2 separate regions of the Homo sapiens genome follow, and region 1 is linked to region 2. The links come from fine-mapping of genetic effects on gene expression. A gene starts in region 2. The other region holds a variant in brackets. All regions are shown on one strand. Distances are from middle to middle.

What was found. PIP is the estimated chance that this variant, and not a neighbour inherited with it, causes the effect.
Region 1: its variant is the best candidate, but not a certain one, in a credible set for the expression of ESPNL in subcutaneous fat (FUSION, PIP 0.54).

Annotation. Positions count from the first base shown.
Region 1 is chr2:237,972,661-237,977,043 of GRCh38, forward strand. It overlaps UBE2F (ubiquitin conjugating enzyme E2 F (putative)), which reads left to right. Exons shown (of 10, transcript NM_080678.3): 2 at 432-565. The coding sequence starts at 448. It overlaps UBE2F-SCLY (UBE2F-SCLY readthrough (NMD candidate)), which reads left to right. Exons shown (of 19, transcript NR_037904.1): 2 at 432-565. Among named protein-coding and RNA genes, the nearest start is that of UBE2F, 7.8 kb to the left of the region's middle. The variant G/A (reference allele first, on the strand shown) is at 2,241.
Region 2 is chr2:238,098,134-238,102,516 of GRCh38, forward strand. It overlaps ESPNL (espin like), which reads left to right and starts at 2,207. Exons shown (of 9, transcript NM_194312.4): 1 at 2,207-2,580; 2 at 3,808-3,998. The coding sequence starts at 2,287. SCLY (selenocysteine lyase) reads left to right here. Exons shown (of 12, transcript NM_016510.7): 12 at 69-1,280. The coding sequence ends at 222. It overlaps UBE2F-SCLY (UBE2F-SCLY readthrough (NMD candidate)), which reads left to right. Exons shown (of 19, transcript NR_037904.1): 19 at 69-1,280. RefSeq lists enhancers at 1-51, 52-720, 355-649.

The sequences.
Region 1 (4,383 bases), 130 kb before region 2:
CTACCTCAGCTTCCCGAGTAGCTGAGACTACAGGCACACACCACCACTCCTGGCTAATTTTTTTATATTTTTTGTAGAGACAGGGTTTTGCCATGTTGCCCAGGCTGGTCTTGAGCTCTTAGGCTCAAGCAATCCTCCTACCTTGGCCTCCCAAAGTGCTGGGATTATAGTTGTGAGCCACCGTGCCCAGCCATGACTCTCTTTTTTAAAAAATGTTAATTCATAATTTTAAAAGTTAGGCTTATAGAGGATGGCATAGAGCTTCTCAAATGTATTATGAAGGAATCCAATCTTATTAATGTGTACAAATTTTTTCCATAACTAAATTGTGGGAAAAAATCAAAATACAAAAGCACTTATACATTTTTCTCAGTGTCTAATTAGTCTCTGGAGACCTGGTCCTTAACCCTGCTTTCATTGCTGTCTTTCAGGGTAAAGGCAGCAGTAATGCTAACGCTAGCAAGTAAACTGAAGCGTGACGATGGTCTCAAAGGGTCCCGGACGGCAGCCACAGCGTCCGACTCGACTCGGAGGGTTTCTGTGAGAGACAAATTGCTTGTTAAAGGTAATGATCATTCGTGTGAACTGTTTTTATATCCTATAACAAAAGGAAGTTTGACTGGAGAGTCTTTGGGGATATAAAGCAACCTACTGCTGAATAGAAATACCTGTTTAAAAGATTTTAAAATATAATTGCTTATCTCTTATAGTGAAGGACATTGTACCACGCAGGTGATATGAGCACACTGTTGCAAGGAGATGGTATTAGAAACTGCAGTGTGTCTTATACACTTGGGATGTTCTTTGTCACGTCTGCCAAAATGCTAGCAGAAAGAATAAGGTGCTGAGAGTCAGCAAAGCCTAAGACTGGTTTCAGAGCTGCCATTATCTTCCTTTCTTTCTGATTCTCAGCACCATAGTTTCTGCTCTGTAAAGGGGAAGGAGTCAAATTTTGTAATCTCTTAGGATCTTTTCCTGTTTTATTCAGGTCAAAGCCTACGGCGAATCTTGTGAAAAATTAGTTCTCTTCACGGAATTAATAACATATAGTGTTCTAGAGTTTTCGTGACTTCTGCTATCCATGTTGGTGAGGAGAAACTTTATCCTTGGAGAAGGGTTGGTAAAATGTATGAGAGTATGCGTGCATGCAGATATGCATTCATTTGTATGTTTGAGCATAAATTTTGCATTTATTCATTTAGCAAACTCTTAAAATTTTCAAGTGCTTTGAAGTCGGTTTCTTGGGGGTCATAAGACCTATAAAAGATGAAGAAACAGTTGCAACCTTTAAGGAGATTATAATTTGCTTATTTATAATAAAGTTAACTTTGTATTTTATTTATTTATTTTTTTGAGACAGAGTCTCACTCTCACCCAGGCTGGAGTGCGGTGGCACAATCTTGGCTCACTGCAACCTCCACCTCCTGGGTTCCAGCAATTCTCCTGCCTCAGCCTCCTGAGTAGCGGAGATTACGGGCACCCGCCACCACGCCCAGCTCATTTTTTTTTTTTTTGAGATGGAATTTCGCTCTTGTTGTCCAGGCTAGAGTGCAGTGGTGTGATCTTGGCTCATCACAACCTCCGCCTCCCAGGTTCAAGCAATTCTCCTGCCTCAGCCTCTCGAGTACCAAGCAATTTTCCTGCCTCAGACTCTCGAGTAGCTGGGATTACAGGCATGCGCTACTACACCTGGCTAATTTTATATTCTTAGTAGAGATGGAGTTTCTCCATGTTGATCAGGCTGGTCTTGAACTCCCCACCTCAGGTGATTTGCTCGCTTTGGCCTCCCAAAGTGCTGGGATTACAGGCATGAGCCACTACACCTGGCCAAATTTTTGTGGTTTTTTTTTTTTTGTTTTTTTTTTTTTTTTGAGATGGAGTCTCGCTCTGTCACCCAGGCTGGAGTGCAGTGGTGCAATCTTGGCTAACTGCAACCTCTGCCCCCAGGGTTCAAGTGATTCTCCCGCCTCAGCCTCCATAGTAGCTGGGATTACAGGCGCCTGCCACCACGCCCAGCTAATTTTTTGTATTTTTAGTAGAGATGGGGTTTCGCCACGTTGGCCAGGCTGGTCTCAAACTCCTGACCTCAGGTGATCCGCCCGCCTCGGCCTCCCAAAGTGCTAGGATTACAAGCATGAGCCACCGTGCCCAGCCATTTTTGTATTCTTAATAGAGACGAGGTTTCACCATGTTAGCCAGGCTAGTCTTGAACTCCTGACCTCAGATAATCCACCCGCCTC[G/A]GCCTCCCAAAGTGCTAGGATTGCAAGTGTGAGCCACTGTGCCCGGCCATAAATGGAGACAGAGTTTCACCATGTTAGCCAGGCTAGTCTTGAACTCCTGACCTCAGGTGAGCCACCCGCCTCTGCCTCCCAAAGTGCTGGGATTACAGACGTGAGCCACTGTGCCTGGCCTTACTTTATCACAGGTGTTTACATTTCTTTAAAATTTTTTTTTTTTTTTGAGACAGACTCTTACTCTATCACCAGCCTGGAGTGCAGTGGCGTAATCATGGCTCACTGCAGCTTCAGCCTTCTGGGCTCAGGCGATCCTGTCACCTCAGCCTCCTGAGTAGTTGGGACTACAAGCGTGCACCACCATGCTTAGCTAGTCTTTTTATTTTTTATTTTTTTGTAGAGATGGGGTTTCATTATGTTGCCCAGGCTGGTCTTGAACTCCTGGGCTCAAGTGATCCACGCACCTCGGCCTTCCCAAAGTGTTGGGATTACAGGTGTGAGCCACTGTACCCGTCAAGTGTTTACATTTCTTACATGTAGAGCAGCTAGAAAGCAAAGGGTTGATTAGTGTATTCGAACTCCCTGTTTTCATGTTGTATTAGGTTGACAACATGGAGATTGCAGGCATTTACGTGTCCTGAAGAATCTAACAGCAGAAGAGCTGGTGTATGTAAATGTGCTGTGCTTGGCCTTCCCAGACACAAATCACTGTTAAACTGGGGAAGGAATGGGAACTGTGAGGGCACTGGGTTTGTGGGGACTTAACAGTGTCCTCTTTTTCTTTTTTAAGACAGAATGCAGTGGCATGATCTCGGCCCACTGCAACCTTCACCTCCTGGGTTCAAGCGATTCTCATGCCTCAGTCTCCTGAGTAGCTGGAATTACAGGCACACACTACCACGCCCAGCCAATTTTTGTATTTTTAGTAGAGACGGGGTTTCAACATGTTGGCCAGGCTGGTCTCAAACTCCTGACCTCAAGTGATTGCCTGCCTTGACCTCCCAAAGTGCTGGACTAACAGGCATGAGCCACTGTGCCTGGCCTGTACTCTTTTTCTTACTCTCCTTCTGCCCCTGAGTTTGGACTTAGTTTTGGATTATCCAGCCTGATGATTGGTTGAAAGTGGAGTGAGAATGGTATTTCACATTTTGGCCTTACCTACTAAGCCTGGGAGAATAGTAGATTGTATTCAGCGTCTGTTGTGCTGGAGGCTTTACCCTAAGAGGCCCAGAGGGCGGGGCAAGAGCTGGAGCACCTTACTTGGGTGTGCCTGATAGGACTTGAGTGTCTTCTCAGATTCCGGGCTCCATCTGCAGCACAAGCCAGGAAAATGGTGTGTTGTTGCTGTACTTGGAGTAGACAGTGAGTGCTTCAGTGCCTGAGGAGTTGCAGCAAGGAGGGCCTGGATGTCAGCTGAGGAGGAGTGGGTAGAAGCTGACAAACAGACTGTCCCATCTTCTTTACCCAATCATTGTCATGGTTAATAGTAGCTAATAGGAGCTTTTGTATACTGAGCACTTAGGGCCAGGCCCTCTGTTGGGCACCTTCTTAGTTCATTTGTGCTGCTGTAACAAAATGCCACAGATTGGGTAATTTATAAACAATAGAGTTTTGGAGGCTGGGAAGTCCAGGATCCTAGTAGGATTGGTATCTGGTACAGGTAGTTCTCTGCTTCAAAGATAGCACCTTGTTGCCGTGTCTTCACATGGCAGAAGAGATGGAAGGGCAAAAAGGGCCTAAGCTAGTTTCCTCCTGCTCTTTTATAAGGCCCTGATCCATTTATGCGGCAGAGCCCTGATGACAATCACTTCCCTAGAGGCCCCACCTCTTAATACTACCACAGTGGGGATTAAGCTTCAGCATGAATTTTGGCCCCATTCGAGCCATAGTAGGCACTTAATGGGGTAATTCTTGTTTGACTTTTCAAAGCCTTGCCAGATTGATCCTTCATTTTACCCATAAACTGCTGAGACTCAGGTTAAGAAACTTGCCCAGTTTGCGGGTTTATTGCAGCAAGACAGCCAGACCCACATACTGGGGTAGGACAGGCTCTGTGGGGGCAGATGCGACAAGCAGAAACCAAAGTAGCAGAATAGAAGTGCAAGTCCACAGAAAAGAGAGTTCAAGGAGGCTCTGCGTCTCCATGTCT
Region 2 (4,383 bases):
AGCAGGGGGGGCTGTGTCTCTTCCATGTGCCCTCAGCAGCAGCTGCAGCTCGGTCTCGCCCTCCCCAGGCCGTCCCCAGTGCTGCTGAGCTACGGTGTCCCCTTCGACGTGGCCAGGAACGCGCTCCGGCTCAGCGTGGGCCGCAGCACCACCAGGGCCGAGGTGGACCTCGTCGTGCAGGACCTGAAGCAGGCCGTGGCGCAGCTGGAGGACCAGGCCTAGCACTGGGGCCGCCTTCCCCACCCCGCTTCTGGGAAGCCCGTGGCAGGGCACAGGGTTGTCCCTCCAGTTCCCTCCTGAGGGCTGTGCCAGGATGACTGTCTCATGCCCCCTCTGCATTTTGTCCTGGAGTGCCAGCGAGTGTGCACCCCCAGTTTCCTTCCCTGGACCCCTGCAGAGCTCACAGGGCCCAGGACACCAACGCCGCATAGGACTGCCCACATGGGACCGCCCACATAGGACCGCCCACATAGGACCGCCCACATGGGACCGCCCACATGGGACCGCCCACATGGGACCGCCCACATAGAACCGTCCTCCAGTGGTGAAGCGGAAACACTTAGCTTTATCCACCCTCCCCACTGGGAACTGGGCACGCCTGTTGTGAGTGCCCTTTCCTGGAAGGTGTTTTTATCTGGAAGATAGAATCCAAGTATTTATAACTCATTGTCAGCCAAATGCTATCATGAACGTAGGAAACTTGATTTTTTTGTTTTGATCATGGCCTCTACATGCACCTTTCCAGAGTGGTCTCTTCTCAGGCCCTTTTTAGTCCCTTTCCAAAGCTGCCCCCACCACCCTGCTCCTCTGGCCTCAGTGCACAGTGGCCCCCAGCCTCGGCCAGGCCTGCTCTGCTCAGCGCCCACCGCCCACCACCCCTCCTGCTTCCCCGAGCCTGACCCTGTTCCGCCCACTGGCAATCAGGGCTGCGCACTTCCCTGTCCACGGTCCCCAGGCCTTCCTGTCTTGTCCCTTTTGATCATTATTAACTCAGGGTTTCAGCTCCAACCTCGCTGAGTTGGTGCAGCTCCAGGTCATTCCTGGGGTGGGAATCGGATCATCCCTGACTCAGCTTTTACCTTAATTTTATTTGCAGAGGATTCTTTTCTCAAAATGCTCTGGCATTTGGACACACATCACATGTCGATATTTGCATAGGAGTCATTTTCAGTGGAATAACATTTTTAATGTGTGGTTTTACGGTTCAAGGAACTACTTGATGATTTTGAGGAAACACTTGCCAGAAACTAAATTAACGAATAAAAGATTTCAGTGCCCGACTTGGGGATCCTGTGGTTTCTCTAGTGGGCACTGCGCTTGGGCACAAAGTCATCTGACAGAGCCTGTCGGGGGGAAGCCAGGGGTGCAGCAGCCCCCAGGTCACCATTGTGTGATGATGCGTTAGCCCAGAAATCCAGCTTGAGGCTGTGTCTCCGGAAGCCCCTACAAATGTAATGGGTCCCCCATCTGCAGCTTCCCATTGCTGCCAGGAAGAGGCTGTGGTGGTCCTGACTTCCCTAAAGAAGAACTATGGATTGTCCAGAACAATCTGGAAAGGGGTTAAATGTACTTGGGCCCTTGGGGCTGCAGCCCAGAGACTTGGTCCGTGTAGTTGGAGAGGGGGCCGAGGCAGGGGCTGACACCTTCTCGCCTCAGAGGCCTGGACACACCCAAGTCAGGGTCCTGAGCCCATTGCAGGCCCCGTGGAGCCACTGTGTCCCCAGAGATTCCTAGGAGCCTCCAGGGCCGAGGGCCGGGACCCAGAGGCGGGGCGCTCAGCTCTGTGGGTGTCAACACAGCCAAACATGTAGACCTACTGGGCACCCTTTACTTCAGACACACTGTGGTGGCGGCTGGGGGTCTGCCCTTCTGTGAGAGTTGGGGGAACTGTCTCCCAGGCCACTCGGGGCTCCTGTGAGAAGCTCAGTGGCGTGTATCCTCAGCCCTCGCTCCACAGATGAAGTTCCTGCCATCTGGACAGATCTGAGCAGCCTCAGGGCCAGCCTCCTTTCTCTGCTGGCCATACCCAGCCCTGACCTAGCCTGGTGTGGGCCTTTCCCTGTGCCCTGTACTCCATCCTCCCAGCTCCAGGCACCTGGCACCCTCACACTGTGGGAGTGGCTTGGGCAGGTCCTCAAGGCCTGTCCCCCCACCCGACCCCACCCCACCGCCTCCCATCTGCCCTGTGGCAGCTTATCGGGTAACCAGAGCCGGCAGCTTCATCCACGTCTGAAACAGGAAGCCCCAGCCTGTGCATGAGTCGCCACTGAGAGCCCGGGCCAGAGGATGGAGAAGCAGCGGGCACTCGTGGCCGCCAAGGATGGGGATGTGGCGACGTTGGAGCGGCTGCTGGAGGCTGGCGCCCTGGGCCCGGGCATCACCGATGCTCTGGGGGCCGGCCTGGTTCACCACGCCACCCGGGCTGGCCACCTGGACTGCGTCAAGTTCTTGGTGCAGCGGGCCCAGCTGCCCGGCAACCAGCGGGCCCACAACGGGGCCACCCCAGCGCATGACGCCGCTGCCACGGGCAGCCTGGCCGAGCTGTGCTGGCTGGTCCGCGAGGGGGGCTGCGGTCTGCAGGTGAGCGGGGATGGGGCAGCCTGGCTCCACGAAGCTGGCTGGGGTGGAACCAGGGAGGTGTGAGCCACGGAGGATCAGAGTACTGGCCACCCCGGGCTCCATGGCCCTGGGCCCTTTGTTTCTCTTGGGGACTCAGTCAGTGGTTACCGTCTCTGCCCCACGCCTCTCAGAGCACAAAGGCTTGAGAGCCAAGAACACCTCCTAAATTTTCTTATCACCTTCCCTGCCAGGAAGCTGGGCGTTGCCAGTGGGGGTCTTGCCAGATATCAGGACCCCTGTCTCTGATCAGGCCTGGTCCACAGGGCCTGCCTCCCAAAGGGTCTAGAAAGGGATCCTTACAGAAGCACTGTGGGAACTTGGGCTTGAGAGCTGGGAGCCTAGCCCTGGGGGACGGGAGTTAGGGCTGCTGATGGTGATCGTCTTGTCCGGATCGTTTCTACTGGGCCCCCCTCCCCTATCCTGCCTGCCCAGTCCCCTTTGTGCAGGCGAGGCCCTTAGAGCTGTCGCTCAGCCCTGTGGAGCTTTCAGGGCTGAGGGTGAGCAGGACTGACCGGCCTTAGAACGCCGCCGCCCAGAGGTCAGAGTTGAGGTGGGGGCCGGTGGGGCCTGCTTAGACTGCGGAGCGGGAAGGTTCCCCAGCACCTGGCTCGCCAGAGCACCTGAGAGTCCCGGCCCAGCATCCTGTTCCTGTCGGCCCTTCCGCCAAACCCAAGGGCAGCAGGCGGGAGCTGTGCCTGCCTGGGGATCCATTCTGACAGGGCCCTTGGAGAAGGCCCAGGTCTGCTGGACCCCTGACACCTGTGGTAGGAACGCTCCCTGGCCCCGGGACCCTGTGGCCAGCGGGAGGGCACTGGGGCAGGGGACCAGCCAGAGGTAGGTGTCCTGGGAAGCCTTTCTGACCATGAGCAGAGTGGGCAGGTGTCTGCGGGCACCCGACTGCGTGGGAAAGGGCCTTCTCCACACTGGGGACGGGCCCAGGAGAGGGCAGGGTTGCCAGAGGTGGCCTCCCAAGACCTGGACCTGAGTCCTGGCCCTCCTCTCACCTCAGTCCCAGCAGGGAGCACCTCCCTCCATGTTGCAGGCAGAAACGGAGGGAAGGAGGAAGGAGCTGGAAGCCCCTTCACTGGGTTGCAGGCAGTGTGAGCCCTCGCCCAGGGCCCACCTCCGGCAGCTGGCTCTGACCTCACGGCCTACCCCCCACTCACTGACCTACCCGGGGCTTGGTAGGACCAAGATGCCTCGGGCGTCTCCCCGCTGCACCTGGCCGCCCGTTTTGGACACCCAGTGCTGGTGGAGTGGCTGCTCCACGAGGGCCACTCGGCCACGCTAGAGACCCGGGAGGGAGCCCGGCCGCTGCACCACGCTGCCGTCAGTGGGGACCTGACCTGCCTCAAGCTCCTGACAGCCGCGCATGGCAGGTAAGGAGCCCAAAGTCCCGCCTGGGGGGGCAGCCTGGGGCGAGCTGGCCAAGGGGAGGCTGCACCATGGAGGGCCAAGAGGACAGGCTGGTGGCCTTTGAGGTGAATCCTGCAGGCGGGCATGCTGTCACTGTGGGGGTGAGCTGGCAGGAGCCAAGGGCAATGAGGCCTCTACCCACAGGCCAGGCAGTGGCAGTGCCATGCCAGGGCCCAAGGGGACACAGGCCAGTGCTTCAGCTTGGAGAGTGGCTGGGGGCGGTGACGATGGCAAGATGCTGCTGTGATGCCCAGGGCAGCTCTGGCCCCACCTGGGGGCATCTCGGGACCTAAAACAGCTGGGGACGTGGGCAGCTGGCAACCTGTGAGGGCACCCTCCCATCACCTG